4 linked regions of the Homo sapiens genome follow. The protein of the gene in region 4 interacts with the protein of the main gene of each other region in a pairwise test. Each region holds a gene or a part of one and is shown on either strand. Other genes may lie near its edges.

Region 1 (4,190 bases), on a different chromosome or scaffold from region 4:
GGCTGAGTCAGGGGCGGCACTGCTGCTGCTGAGACACCTGGGCTGGCTGTCGGGAAGCTCCTGCCTGCCTCTGACGCAGGGGGGACTGGCTGCCATGGGCTGTGTGCCTGCCCACGAGGGCTTCTCCCAGGCAGCTGGGCCGTTCCGGGCCTCCTTTGCTGTCCTGGGCTCTGGGATCAGGCTGAGGCCCCGCGCAGCTGGGTCATTCTCTGCTGGGCAGCCTTGGCCTCAGTCTCCTCACCTGCCAAGTGGGTTTAGTGATGCGATTCGCTCCCCGTGGCATCTGGTGGGCACGTGTGTGCAGAGTGGCCGGCACCTGGCCGCTCTCCTGGTGACTCGTGAGGGTGTCCTGAGCGGGGAGCCACACTTGCGGTCGGGGGCTCAGGCGACGACGGCACAGGGGCAGCAGTTGCCCCCATGAAAGGCTGTGATGAGGCCGAGCGCGGTGGCTCACGCCTGTGGTCCCATCGCTTTGGGAGGCTGAGGTGGACGGATCACCTGAGGTCAGGAGTTCGAGACCAGCCTGGCTAACATGGTAAAACCCCATCCCTACTAAAAATACAAAAGATTGGCCAGGCGTGGTGGCAGGCACCTGTAGTCCCAGTGACTTAGGAGGCTGAGGCGGGAGAATTGCTTGAACCTGGAAGGCGGAGGTTGCAGTGAGCCGAGATTGTGCCACTGCAGTCCAGCCTGGGTGACAGAGCAAGACTCCTTCCAAAAAAAAAAAAAAAAGGCGATGACGAGGGTGTCTGGGTGTCTGAGCAGCAAAGGGAGCGTCAGCCAGAGTGGGGCGTGTGGCGGCAGGAACCAGACAGGCCAGCTGGAGCTCAGGCCACAGGCGGCTGCGCAGACCCAGACTCGAGCCTGCTGAGGAGGCACTGACTGGAGCTGTGACTGTAGGGTGTGGGCGAGAGCTGCTGAGGGCACTGAGCCCCCAGGAACCAGGCGGGCGCAGGGAGGTGGCCCTGCGTGCCGTCCTTGCCCCTGACCTCCCCGTCTCTGGGTGGTTCCTAGGGTGGTTCCAGCTCTGCCTGCCGACCCCCCACCCCCGAACGCCTGCAACCTCCGCAGTGTCCCCAAGTGGCGGTGAGAGGACGGTGGGGGTGCTGGGCCCTGCCGCCCACGGTGGCGGGGAAGAGCCGGCGTGGGCGGGGAGCCACCAGGAAGTGAGGGCTGCTACGGCCAGTGTCACTGATGGGGCCAGGCGGGAAGTCTCCCCAGCTGCCCCCCGGCCCACCCTGTCTTCTCCTGGTCCCTGCGGCGGCCTGGCCCGAGTCTTCAGAAGACGGCCTGGGTCTGTCTCTGGCCGCTGCTTGCTCTGTGTGTCTGCGGTTGTGCCAGATACCGTGACAGTGACAGCCTGCCCCTGCCTCTCAAGCGTCCGGCCAGCACCCTGGAGCGGCTCTGCACAGCTGGGTTCTCCGGAACGGGCTCCCTGCAGCACCCTGTGAACATGGAGCCTGGCGTTGTGATCGGGCACCAGCAATACCCCGGGAACCTGTGGATGTCGGCTGCCCTCTCTGGCCGGCTGGCGCTGGGGTCTGCCTCGGGCAGATGCCGGTGCTGAATTTCCTCCCACTTAGAACTCTGCCACCATGAGGACCTTCCTCTGAGCCTCGGGCGAGCCGTAGCACCCCTGGCACTGGCACGGATGGGCACCTGTGGGGTTCCAGTCCCTAGTGGTGGTGCCTGAAGCCACCTGGGAAGAAGAAGGCAGAGTTCGGGGCCTGGGCCGAGGCACGCCCTGGGGTGTGAGGCGGGGCCCCAGCCTGGGCTGAGGCAGTGGCTTCGCTCACGCCTCGTCCATCCAGCTTGTCTTGGGAGTGTGTGGTGCGTGGGGCCCAGGGACAGACGGTGTGAATGTGGGATGTGGTGGCAGCTGCTGAGGGCGGGAAGAAAGGGGTGCAGGCGCCGCACGTGCCCGTGCCTCTGGGGCTGCGGGGCCCACACACTGTGGATCAGCCGGGAAGCTTTGGGCACCCTTTAGGAAAACAGTAGCCAGCACGGGGGCTCCTACCGAGGCCGAGCACTGCACCATGACTCTCCCTGGGGTCTCCTGATGTGCACAGCTTCCCGAGGGCCCTGCCACCCACAGGGGCCGAGTCACTGTCACCAGGGGCCTGCCTGCCCTGGTCACTGTCAGTCATCTGGGGCCTGTAGGTCGCCAGCCCACTCCCCTCCATGCGCCTGGCCCTGGGCCCTCAGGACATGCGCCCCGTGCAGGCCCCGTGGATGAAGGGGCCTCTGCTGCCCTGCCAGGTCCCACCCGGGGATGAGGCCATCACGCTGCAGGGGTGCATGGGTGGAGCCCGGCACTGGCAGGGTCCCCCCTACCCTGGCTGCCTGGCCAGCTGTTGCTATGGTGATGATGCCGGGTGATCGTACCTCCTGCATCTGTTCTCTGACGGAGAGGTGAATGGATTCACCGTCTTCTGCTAGGGCCAGAGGCTCCAATGGGGCCTCTGTGGGGGCCCCCAGTGCGTGCTGCCCCCGGAGAAGGTGGGGCAGCTCCTTCACCAGGCCCCCTTGCCCAGGCGTTTCTACCTGCAGCTGCCCCGATTTAATACGAGACCAAGCGGTCTCTTGGCTGTGCCCTTGGAGGAGGAGGGCGGCTGGAGACCCCCAGGTCCAGCCCCTCCCACCGTCGGCCAGCAGAGGCTCAACCTCCACCCTGGATATCCGGGATCCACCTGTCACTTGCCTTCGTGACCAGAGCCTCGGTTCCGGCCTTCGGTGGCCCTGGAGGGGCTGGCCGGGGGCCTGAGAGACAGCCCAGAGCCCTGACAATACGCAGGAGTTGGGTCGCAGCCCTTGGCGTCCTCGATGGCACCCGGATTTCAGATATGAGTGAGTGTCCAGGCTGTCCTCTGTGACAGGGCAGAGGCTTGGAGCAGAGAGGTGACCTTTGAAACCCCTAGGGTGGGCGTTCCAGCAGCAGGGCCGACGTGCACAGGCCCCGACGCTGGAGTGGGTGCTGCAGAGAGAGGGTTCTGGACAGTGCTGTGGCACCAGGCCCCACGGCCGCTGCGGGCAGGACAGCGGGGGCCAAGAGGAGGCCAGGGCTGGGGCAGATGAGTGTGTATGTGGCCAGGTCGGGCTGTCGTGAGCCGGCAGTGCGGGTGGCGGGAGCATGCGTTGTGCCCTGGACTGAGACGGGAACCCGGGAGCCCGACAGAAAGCCAGTGATGCACAGAGGGGCTGAGCTCGGCACATGGGGACCAGAGCGGCCGAGCGCTGTGCCAGGCCACGTGGGCGTGTGCAGGGCCTCGTGCTTGTCCAGGAGAGATTCGGGGCTGGGGCTGGCAAGCCAGGGTCCTCAGAGGGAGACAGCTTCTCCCTCAGGCCCTTCTGGGGCTGCCTGACCTTGTGGATGCACCCAGCAGGAGAGATGGTGGTCGGGGCAGCTGCACAGCTGACTTACGTCCTGCCCTCAGTGGGGGCCAGTGCAGCTGTTCCAGGTCCACTGGGTGGTGCTAGCCTGGGGAGTCACCATGCAGGGAGAGCCTGAGCCCTGAGCTACCCCTCCATTCCCAGAGACCCACCCAGGCGATGGAGCGGCCCTGGGCTCCCGGTCAGCTGGCGGGCGGACGGCGGCAACCCCTGAGCCCAGAGGAGCCCCGATAGACCCGACACCGGCAGAAACCAGGGGTTCAGATTTGACTGTGAAGTCTCAGCGTGTTTACGTGGGGCGTCCCAATCCCGACACCCCAAACACACCCCAAGAACCGACGCCTGGGGAGAGTTGTCACGGCCACTGTGGCAGAGCCACACTGCTCCCACACTAAGCTCAGGGCCACAGTGGTGGTCGTTGGCTGCTTCCCCTTCCCCTTTCCCTTTTTCTTTTTCTTTTTCTGACACGGTCTCACTCTGTGGCCCAGGCTGGAGTGCAGTGGTATGATCTCGGCTCACTGCAACCTCTGCCTGCCGGGTTTAAGCGATTCTCGTGCCTCAGCTCCTGAGTAGCTGGGATTACAGGCACCCACCACCGTGCCCAGCTAATTTTTGTATTTTTAGTAGAGACGGTATTTCCCTATGTTGGCTGGTCTCGAACTCCTAACCTCAAGTGATCTGCCCACTTTGGCCTCCCAAAGTGCTAGGATTACAGGTGTGAGCCACTGTGCCCAGCCCTTTTTTTCTTTGTTTCTTTCTTTTTTTTGTTTTTGTTTTTGAGATGCTGCCTCACTCTGTTG
Region 2 (4,190 bases), on a different chromosome or scaffold from region 4:
TTTGTGTTTGAATTCTTGGCCTTTTCAAAAAATGCCCATTAAACTTTCATGATTTTGCCACCATCATTAAAAGTAGCCTCCTCTTAGTTTAAATGGATTGTATTCTTCTGGCTTTTTAAAGCAAAATTTTAAAGATATTTATTGTTTATTCTTAGTTGGAAATAGGAAGTTTTTTCCCCAGTGACTTATCCCTTTGGAAATTTTTTAAATTATATGTTTGATACCTCATTGGAACATAAACAATACAATATATTAACACTTCTATTCTGACCTACTGTGTAATTGTTAGAAAGAGGTATAAAATTAATATATTGACCTTTATATTCTGCACAGACCACTCGCTACCTCATTCGAAGGCCGACATGGCAGTGTGCGCTATTGGGTGAAAGCCGAATTGCACAGGCCTTGGCTACTACCAGTAAAATTAAAGAAGGAATTTACAGTCTTTGAGCATATAGATATCAACACTCCTTCATTACTGGTAAGAATTGACTGAATTATTTATTCTTTGTTTTTGGCATATAAATATTAAAGAATAATCAATCACCTAAACTATGCAGTTGTCATAATTTAAAAATACTGGTTTTCTTTTAAAATTTCATAAATATACATTTTCTTAAATACAGTCAAGAACACTGAAATTAATGAAAAATATGCTCATATTTTTGACATTGTAGTATACCTTTAAGTAAATATAAAACTAAGACCAGTATATGATATGAAGTATCTCTTACTCAGAGTATGACAGCCATAACAAAAAACAGATCTGGTCCTTGGATGATTTGAGTGGAAGAAGAGCAGTAGTATCTTTTATTATAATACAATATCACTTACTTGACAATATCATAATCTAAAATTTGTACTATACTTTGTTATTCCAATAGAGGGATAGTTGTCAAATAATGGGGAATCATTAGTTTCATTAAAAAACTCCTTTTTTAAAGAAATCTATTTTTAATTGCATTTGTCTGAAAATAATTCAAATTTGACTTAAAACTTTATTTGATTTAAACAAATGGTAACATCTTTAAAGCACATAAGAAATGGGCATTTTCCTTTTTTACATATTGATTTTTTAATAGTCTCAGAGAAAGATGTTAACATTTGGAATTATAATCAGATTGCTTTCTTTGCTGCCTTTTTAAGGCAGTTTAAATGGAATGTGGAAAGGGTTTTTTTTATTTGGTTGGTTTTTGATTACTATATTTGTAAATAGTGTGAGCTAAAAAACTATGTTTATGGGATAGGCTGTAAACCCTTTACCTTTTTTTTCTAATTGAATGGAAATTTATATGAAAATAAAAGTAATGGTATAATTCAAAACCATCGGTTAGTTAAAAAATAAGAAGTATGTCTGGATACAAAAAAAAAGCAAAACCAGTTGTAATTTTTAATTTTCCATAAATTTAGGGTTATATTTTAAAATATTCTGGTATTGATTGTACCAATCCATACACTGACCTTTTTCTCTTAATTTTTTTCTTACAGTCACCCCAAGCAGGCACAAAAGAAAAGACACTCTGTTGCTGGTTCTGTACCTCAGGCCCAATATCCTTAAGTGCCAAAATTGAAAGGAAGGGCTATACCCCAGGTATGTAAGAGGTAGATTCCCACAAAAAACTTTTCTTCACTTAGCTTTTGTGTTTAAATTTATAATATGACTACTAAATATAAACATAATATAGTATTCTTTTGTGAAATAACAAATTGTGCTTATCCATTTGTTTTTTTCACAAAGTAGAATGTAGTTTCCTTTTTCAAATAGCTACTGATTAGTTCATTTCTATGACTCAAGTTATTTGCAGTTCCTGGGACATCTTTTCATGTATGTTAGTTGCACTTTCTTACTTTAGCTTTAAGAATCTTGACTTCTTTTGTTGTTTTTTTCTAACAGTAGATATGTATATATTTTTCCCTCTCTAGGTGAATCAATTCAGATATTTGCTGAGATTGAGAACTGCTCTTCCCGAATGGTGGTGCCAAAGGCAGCCATTTACCAAACACAGGCCTTCTATGCCAAAGGGAAAATGAAGGAAGTAAAACAGCTTGTGGCTAACTTGCGTGGGGAATCCTTATCATCTGGAAAGACAGAGACGTGGAATGGCAAGTTGCTGAAAATTCCACCAGTTTCTCCCTCTATCCTCGACTGTAGTATAATCCGCGTGGAATATTCACTAATGGTATGTACACATTTAAGAGGTTTTTTCCTTTCTTTTTTCTTTTTTGAAACACCTGTCACCCAGGCTGGAATGCAGTGGCACAGTCTCAGCTCCGCTACAGCCTCTGCTTTCTGGGCTCCAGTGATCCTCCCACCTCAGCTCCCAAGTAGTTGGGACTACAGGTGTGCCTATAGCCATGCCTGGATAATTTTTGTATTTTTTGTAGTGATGGAGTTTGACCATGTCGCCCAGGTTGGTCTTGAACTCCTGGGCTCAAGTGATCCATCCACCATGGCCTCCCAAAATGTTGGAATTATAGGCATGAGCCACAGTGCCTGGCCCAAGAGGTTTTTGGTGTTTTTTTTTGTTTTGTTTTTAAGTCTTAAAGTTATGACATAGTTTTGTCTTACATCCAGGATTTGATTTTTTTAAATTCCATATATAGTGACATATAAAATACATAACTCTTTATATAGTTTGACTTACAATTATACCTTATATGTAAATGTACTATACAGAATTATACATAAAAGAGAAACTTTTCATGTATGTAAGTTTAAAAATGAAGTAAATGGGGGTTTCAAATAACATTAAAATTGGTTATGAGTTTTTGAAAAGGAAATCATACTTGGCATTCTAAACTTAATATTTCTTTGCAATGTTTAGGTATATGTGGATATTCCTGGAGCTATGGATTTATTTCTTAATTTGCCACTTGTCATCGGTACCATTCCTCTACATCCATTTGGTAGCAGAACCTCAAGTGTAAGCAGTCAGTGTAGCATGAATATGAACTGGCTCAGTTTATCACTTCCTGAAAGACCTGAAGGTAATTTGATAATACACGTCTAAGCTTAATCTCTTACTACTATTATCAAGAAAATTATTTTGCCTCTGATATTTTATGACCCTAGATGAACATAATCTTTTCCTAAAGAAAGTAGATGTGCCCCTAATATTCAGTTTTGATTATATGTCTTCATAGTTTTGATCACCAAACAATAATTATTTTACCTTGACGTTGCTTTTTAATACCTACTATTCTGTGTATTTTGACATGCATAAGAACATGCTGTTCGAATTGCGTGTATCTTTTTCCTTCAGCACCACCCAGCTATGCAGAAGTGGTAACAGAGGAACAAAGGCGGAACAATCTTGCACCAGTGAGTGCTTGTGATGACTTTGAGAGAGCCCTTCAAGGACCACTGTTTGCATATATCCAGGAGTTTCGATTCTTGCCTCCACCTCTTTATTCAGAGGTAAGTACCTACTCCTTAAGTATGAAATGAACTGGCTATCTTGGGAAATAGCATTGCAGGCATTTTTTTTTCTTAATGTTATTAGATCTTGATTATCATGTTAACAGAACAAATAATTTAAAACAACAGATTAAAAGTTAATATTAGGTTCATCAATATTTACTAAGTTTGATGCAGAGGTAGGACTGTTCACTTATTAGGGAATTAAGATAATGATCTAACCTCATGTTGAATTACTAATTTTTTTTTCTCTTAAACTTTTATCTTGAGACACATTTTTTGAAGGAAGAATTTTGTATATCCAAGCATCAATAGGAAGAACTAGCATTTTGCAAACACTGATTAAATAGTAGAATTTATCTTATTCATGATGCTTTTCCAATTGCATATTTTGACATTCTCAGTCATAAGAAATAATGTATTTGTGATAACATCTTAAAACAACATTCCCACATGGTTAGACTATTTTCGTTCATCTCATATTGATGGCAGCTAAGCACTTAAATGTAAATAAAACATGGCCCTTAGGAGAAACCCACAGATTACTGAGGAAAACAAGCTAAGAAGCAAAATATTATGTAATAATGTGATAAAATGCACAGCTCATTTGAGAAGCAGCTTATTAGGTCTTGGGCATCAGGTGGGGCTTCTTGAAAAGGTGACTATTAAGCTGAATTTTGAAGAATGAGTAGTCCTCAAAAGGCAGGAAGAACAGTGTATGTAAAGACAAGGAGTGAGTAGGTGGGGTGTCCAGTAATTTCAGGATATTTCA
Region 3 (3,416 bases), on a different chromosome or scaffold from region 4:
GGGAAAATTTACATGAGCCCACAACTTAGAGAACAGAGAGGAAATATGCTCTTTGCCACTAGCGTAATTTTACAGGTAGTTTCGTATAATCCTCCCTTTTCCATCTTTAAGATGGCAATTTAAAAAATCAGAAAGGACTGCTGGGCGCGATGGCTCACGCCTGTAATCCCAGCACTTTGGGAGGCCGAGGTGGGTGGATCATGAGGTCAGGAGATCAAGACCAACCTGGCTAACATGGTGAAACCCCGTCTCTACTAAAAATACAAAAAAATTAGCCGGGCGTGATGGCGGGCGCCTGTAGTTCCAGCTACTCGGGAGGCTGAGGCAGGAGAATGGCGTGAACCCGGGAGGCAGAGCTTGCAGTGAGCCGAGATGGCGCCACTGCACTCCAAACTGGGAGACAGAGTGAGACTCCATCTCAAAAAAAAAAAAAAAAAAAAAAAAAAAAAAAAAAAAAAAAAAAAAAATCAGAAAGGACAAGAAAAACAGTTGACTGTGTTAGGATGCAAGGCTGAATCTCTGCACATTCTATTTCCTCTGAGGCAGTGCTTATTTTCCAAGGAAGAATTTTTGGGTGTGCTATACTGGAGGTCTCCCTTCTCAGGGAGAGTCATCACTTGCTCCAAAACGCTGGACCTCAGCTCAAGGGCACCACTGCAGGAGGAATAAAAAGGTGGAGCCACGCAACAACTCGTCTGTGTTCCGCAGTAGGCTCTTTTTGAGGGACTTCCAGAAATGACAGCATGTGTGCAGAGAACAGAAAGCAAAGTTACACTGTTACAGAAGGCACAGAAGGAAAACCTTCGGCTACTGCTATCAGTGGAATTTCTCTGTAGCCAGACTGAGGTCTGGTGGCATTTGAGATATAATATAGATATAGACCTACAAATACAGATCTCCAGGCTGTTCATTCAACAAGTCTTTATTGAGCACCTACTCTGTGCCCAGCACTGCACTAGGTGCCATGAGAATACAAGAGTAGTATAAGATGTTATCCGCCCTCCAGGAGCTTACAAAACTAGAGGCAGAAATAAGATGTACATGTGACTCAGGCAGCATGTGACACACACAAAGTGGGCAGCTCTGAGACAATGGTGGTCAAGTGACCACTGAGGCCCAGAGCCGTTGGAACAGTCTCTTAGAACAGGGTGGAGGACTTAAAACTTGGATGAACAGGGGCTGGCAGAGCACTTGGAATGGGTAAGGACAAGACTGGGAGATCAATTTGGCTGGAGCAGGGGAGCTTGTGTTAAACTGTGATGATGAGGGGCACCTGGACAGAGGTTGGGTCCGTGGGCAATGAGAAGACATGTTACTCCCTCTCTTGACATGAAGACCTGGTGGGCTTGTGGCCTCCTGCTGCCTTCCTTTCCCTGTCTTCCCATCTCCACTCTCTCCTAGGAAAGTGGAACCTGGATGCTGGTAGGGCCAGAGACAGAGGCTTAACACCCTGCTGGGGAACCCGGTCAGAACTCCCGAGGCAGGAGAGGTTCTGCTCCACTGGATGTTTGTCTTGGTGTTTTTGGATGTGCTGATCAAGAGCAAGATGTTCTGGATTCTTAAAACTCCCCTCACAAGGACCAATCTAGAGATAATTTATTGATCAGTGATCACAGCTTGTACCCCAAAGCCGTGTATGTCTGGATCCTTCCCTAAGACCACAGATAGCTCCAGGGAGTCCCACCTCCTTGGCTATGGAAATATGCTCAGCCCTGGTTTCAGAGAAGCCTGGACTCCACTCTGGACCCCATGAGATGATATGCGCTGGTACTCCAGGCTTTAAATGGCCTGGGAAGCCTCAGTGGATTTTGTTTATTTTCAGCATTGCCATGTATGCTTAACTCTGAGTTGGGGTGGGGTAGGTCTGTTTAAAATGCCAGGGAAGGTGGGCAGCAGAGTGGATTTGTGCAAGAAGGAACCTGGGGGGTTTAAGGACAGCAAAATGATCTTAGGCGTAATTGACTGGTTTTTCTGAGGTCTTGCCACACTGGGCAAGAAAATGCTGCATCGGGCCCTTATTCCAGAGAGTGCAGAGCTGGGGCCAAGGTCGTGGTCAAAAAGGAAAGGAGCCCTCATGGACTCCAGGGTCAGAAGTTCCCTCGGGAAACCAGCAGGAGGTGGGAAAAGAGCCCCATTAGGGCAGTAGATGGAGCAACAGCACTGAGTGAGATTTCAGGGGGCCACAGCAATGGGGAGGTGGCTACCAGTGGATATGGGGTCCCCTGCTCCAGGTGCTTAGGCCAGGCATCCCGTCCCCCCATTGAGAGTCCTGGAATTCCAAAGAAGTGAAGCATCTGAGGGTTGGGGCTGGGGGCAGATGTCAGGGCTCAGGGTCTTAGCAGGAGGCGTGTTCCTGGCCACTTGAGCCACAGGAAGGGGACCAGGCGCCGGGTGAAGGTGGCAGTGAAGGTGTAGATGAGTTCCTGTGACTCTGCGTTGGTGAAAGTCACGGTGCCCCCTTCATAATCCAGGGCGATGCCCACTCTCCGGGGCCGCAGTGCTGGGAAAAGCTCAGCCTCGGGGCTGGTGTTGGCCCAGATGCCGGAGGAGGAGAGGCGCAGCGCCCACACGCCATCCTCTGGCCGCAGGGAGAGGTCTCCCTTCCTCTTCACAGAGTCTCTAGCCACCCCCACCATGCAGCTTTCCAGAACTTCCTCCTCTTCCTCCTCCTCTTCTTCCTCTTCATCGCCCAACGATTCCTCATCTTCGTCCGTTTCCCAGTCGTCATATCCATCCCCATAGCCGGCCTCCTCTTCCTCCTCCTCCTCTTCTCCCTCTTCCTCCTCATCCCCCTCTTCTTCATCCTCAGACCAGCCCTCCCTCTCCACTTCCACTTCCCAGTAGACCTTGCCCCAGGTGAAGCCCTTGCTGCCTAGCACCCCAGGCTCACAGTCAAACTGCTGGGGGTGCAGGTAGGCACTCTTGTACAGGCTGGTGTAGGTCACGCACTTCCAGTCCTCTGACAGCTGCAGGTACCCACTGGCCGACTGTGGGTCCAGGGTGACGCTCACTGTGGGGACAAGGGAAAAAAAAAAAAACAGCATCACTGTTTTGTTTTGTTTTTTAAGTCAGAGGGAATAAAATTTATTTTGGCAGATAGCGTTAAACAAAATTAAAGTTGCATACATTAGTAATATAACTCAACATCCTTAATTTGGTATAAGTGTGACACATTTTCTGGCTTTGTATTCTGCTAAATCACCATAACTAAACTGCTTTATAAACATGATATACTGAAATTTAACTTGACTGTTTTCGCTTACGCTCTGATTCCAAACAAAACTTTTCATAAGCTTCCTCTATCTCTGGATCTCTGGGTCCAACTCATCATTAATATCATCCAAGTGTGGATCACCAGTCCCTGAAAAATCTGTTCCATTTTCTTCATAATCCAGAAAAAAAGTCCTCTTTTTCAA
Region 4 (3,500 bases):
TGCTCTATTGCATAAAAATGGTCTCCCTGGGTTGTGTGCAGGAGCCAGCCTCATTTATTTTAAGCTGTAAACTATAAGTGGCTTTAACACCATGTCTCTCACAGTATGTTCATGCTGCAATCAAAGCGGCTCTGGGTGGGTTGGAGGCTAGAGTTGCATCTCCTGCTTGTTTGAGCCCTGCTGACAAGATAGCACAAGGCGGAGACCAGGCCCACGGGGAGTTGGCTGCTAGAACGTGTCTCCTGCAGTTTCCTTCACCCTGAAGCTTCCTTTTGCAGTTGCCTCCTCTCTGTCCGCCAATTTCTTCTCTGGCCTGGAGAGATCCTGCCTGTAGGAGGCTTGTCTTTCTGGGTTGGAATTGACCTAGACCCAGAGCTGGGCTGTAGTGTAAACTTTCGCCGGTAGGTGGTGCATGAAGATGCCCTCCTGCCCTGTGCTCCCCGAGCTCAGATCTCTGACACCTTCTCTGGCATCTCCATGTACCAGTGCCACACACTGCGGCCTCTTCTGGTGACCTTATCACCCCCTATCTTGATTGTTTTTCCCTGTAGACTGTGAGCCTTGTGGGTGAGGGAGTGCTAGACGTCCTTCCTTCTGTATTTCCAGCATGTGACACAGTGCTGGGCATGTGGATGTTCAGGAATTGTTGGATGAGTAAAAGAATGAATGAACGAATGAATGAATGCATGAATGAGAGAAGAGGGATGGAAGGAGACAAAGGGCCTTATCCTCCAGCATGAAGGTTCGTTAAGTTTGAGGTACACATTCTGTGAAATGAATCAGGCTTCCAGTAAAAAGATGAGTTTCCTTATAACCAGGGCTATCTCTTCACGATGGCCCCGACCCTGACTATCCCTGTTCTGGAAATGCGGTGATCCCAACGGGCGTCTAGGATGCTGGTAACATACTCCCAGCATGAGAAGGTGGGAAGGTCTCATTCATTGTTGTCTGTAACCGGCAGTTCAGAGGCCACCAGCTCGGGGAGTCCCGTCCGTTGCTTTTGAAATTGTCACAGCATTTCTTCCTTCCCTATCTTTCAGAGTGAAACATCTTTCAACCTAATATCAGAAAAATGTGACATTCTATCCATTCTTCGGGACCATCCTGAAAACAGGATTTACCGGAGGAAAATCGAGGTGAGGCAGAGGGCAGGGAGAAGAGCATCCGAAACTAAACAGGCTGGAGTTGGGAGTGTAATGGTGATGCCTCTTTGAAGGCCGATAGTTTGGGCCAGGTTCCTGGGCAAATGAAAGGATTCCTAGGATATTTTGATGTTGGACATTTGCCTTAGCGATAAATCCTTTCATTCCAAAAAAAAAAAAAGGATTTTTTTTTGTTGAAAAGTTTAGCACTATCCTAATGTTTTATTTACTCACCAATACTTCATTACAACTCTGTGAGGTAAGTACTTTTATTACCCCCATTTTACAGCTGAGGAAACTGAGGCACACAAATTAAGTGGTGGCCATTTAGTTCATGAGTGGCCAAGCTAGGATTTAAACCCAGGCAGCTGAGTCTCAAGCCACATTCATAACTGCTGTGCTGGGAGACCTCTTGGAGGGAAAGTTTACGCCAGTGAGGCTAAAGGGATTTGTGGGAAGGCTGCAGGGATCGCTCATGGAGCACTCACCCGTGGATGGCAGGAGGAGCTGGGTGCCCACTCTGTCCCTCTGGTAGGAGGCCCTGGCCGCTCTCTGCACTCTGCAGGTCTTCCTCTCGCTGCAGGACAGGCTTGCTCTGGCACTGGCCCCACAGGCCCTTCCCTTCAAGTTCCTCTCAGACACGCAGCACCGTTGCTGGGCCTCATTACTTATCCTCAGAGACTCTGATAGGTCCAGCTTGGGTCAGATGTCCATCAGCAGCCAGGGGTAGTGGTGTGGGCATCATGTGATCCGAACGCCGCTGCGGGGCACTTCCAGGGAAGGAGCTGGGCTCTGCAGCCCACTGACTTTTGTGTCCCCCAGAGCCCTCCTGGGAGATGAGCCAGGGGCTCCAGAGAGTGCCTGCCTCCCCACTGCCAGCTGGCCTCAGGTGGGCCCAAGTCGGCTCTGAGCCTTCTCATGGCTATGGGGGGAACAGGAACTCCAAGACCCCTTGAAAACCATCCTCTGCTGTCAAAATGCTGCTTATAGTCCCATGAGGCAGGAAAGGGGATTCCAGGCCAGTTCAGAGGGACACCTACTTACTGCTAGGAGTGGAGCTGGAGCCCACCCCTCCCGCCCCTGCTCACACATGCAACCCCCTACCCCCTACTTCTGCCAGCTCCCGATTCTCAGTGCTGCTCCCCCAGGAAGGCTTCCCCAACTTCCAAAATCCAGTGCAATGCCAGTGCCCCGTGGCACCCAGCCAGGCACTCCTGTCCCCTCACAATGCCACTGTCTAATTATCCATCTTCCCTCCCGGACCGTAGGCTGCCTGGGGGCAGGGACGGACACACAGGACAATGCAGTGTATTTTTATATCAGGGGAATGAACGAGGGTGGGAGGCTGAGGGGATAGCAGCCTGAAGGGAGGGAGCAGACATTTCCTGGGAGAGATGGGGGGCACCTGGCCAGTCCCAGTGCCCAAACCACACAGAGCCGTTGTTGGTGCAAATGCCCACATTTCTTTCTGTCCCCCTCAGGAACTCAGCAAAAGGTTCACCGCCATCCGCAAGACCAAAGGGGATGGGAACTGCTTCTACAGGGCCTTGGGCTATTCCTACCTGGAGTCCCTGCTGGGGAAGAGCAGGGAGATCTTCAAGTGAGTGCCGGGGCCCCTTGGCCTGTCAGGGCTGTGTTCTCTGTGCTAGGTCAGCCTCAAGTCTCTCGGAGGTTTTCGTTACACTCAGGCTGGTTAACCCAGAGAATGAGCTGAAGAGCTGCCTGGCAGAGGCGTTTGATGTTGGGGGTGCCCAGCTGCCTGCTGTGGTGAAGTTGGGGGCAGCCAAGGGGTGGAGGATGGAATCTGTGACCTCCCAGATGCTTTCCAGCCTCTGCTTCCACCACAGGCCTGGGTCAGCCCAGGTGAGTCGCAGGGAGCAGGTACTTCGTGACCCACTCTGAAAAGAAAAGAAAAGACAAACAAAAAGAAGCTTTGCCCCGGTGTTCTGCATAATTCCTGTTGACCTTGGTGTGGAGTGTGTGTGACCCAGGCATTCAGCTGGCTGGGCCTGTCCCTGAGGTTCATGCTGGAGAAGGTCTGTGTCCAGAGCTGCCCCTGTCATCTCGGCTAGTTCAGGGCTTCTCATATCTGAAGTTTGTACAAGGCGCCTGGTTCTCTAGTCCATAGCAAGAAAAAAAAAAGCAAAGACAAACAAACCCCTGAGACCTGGCTTGGACCCGAATTCCTGTCCAGTGGGAGCAGGGCAGAGCAGGGACTGCTTTTGTCACTGGCTCCCAGGAGATGCTGATGCTGCTGGGCCTCAAACCACGCTTTGAGGAGCAAGGAGCTAAGAGACCCACCTGGCTCTTAACCTTTGGGGGTCTCAGAGCCCTTAGAGGCTTTGGTGAGGGCCATGG

What was found. The genes of interacting proteins can lie anywhere in the genome.
Region 1: the proteins of OTUB2 (region 4) and RNF126 interact in a two-hybrid assay, tested with the Homo sapiens proteins (one large-scale study listed by BioGRID).
Region 2: the proteins of OTUB2 (region 4) and ARRDC3 interact in binary tests that used the Homo sapiens proteins (3 or more experiments, as listed by UniProt).
Region 3: the proteins of OTUB2 (region 4) and TRIM26 interact in a two-hybrid assay, tested with the Homo sapiens proteins (one large-scale study listed by BioGRID).

The regions. Positions count from the first base shown.
Region 1 is NC_000019.10:656,309-660,498, reverse strand, and holds part of RNF126 (E3 ubiquitin-protein ligase RNF126), read left to right. Parts: intron 1-4,190. UniProt on the Homo sapiens protein: E3 ubiquitin-protein ligase that mediates ubiquitination oF target proteins. Depending on the associated E2 ligase, mediates 'Lys-27'-, 'Lys-29'-, 'Lys-48'- and/or 'Lys-63'-linked polyubiquitination of substrates.
Region 2 is NC_000005.10:91,372,912-91,377,101, reverse strand, and holds part of ARRDC3 (arrestin domain-containing protein 3), read left to right. Parts: intron 1-333; coding exon 334-481; intron 482-1,488; coding exon 1,489-1,591; intron 1,592-1,923; coding exon 1,924-2,180; intron 2,181-2,825; coding exon 2,826-2,988; intron 2,989-3,225; exon of another isoform or gene 3,226-3,263; coding exon 3,264-3,418; intron 3,419-4,190. UniProt on the Homo sapiens protein: Adapter protein that plays a role in regulating cell-surface expression of adrenergic receptors and probably also other G protein-coupled receptors.
Region 3 is NC_000006.12:30,183,549-30,186,964, forward strand, and holds the end of TRIM26 (tripartite motif-containing protein 26), read right to left. Parts: intron 3,011-3,416; coding exon 2,328-3,010; 3' UTR 907-2,327; downstream 1-906.
Region 4 is NC_000014.9:94,036,340-94,039,839, forward strand, and holds part of OTUB2 (ubiquitin thioesterase OTUB2), read left to right. Parts: intron 1-1,040; coding exon 1,041-1,136; intron 1,137-2,623; coding exon 2,624-2,742; intron 2,743-3,500. UniProt on the Homo sapiens protein: Hydrolase that can remove conjugated ubiquitin from proteins in vitro and may therefore play an important regulatory role at the level of protein turnover by preventing degradation.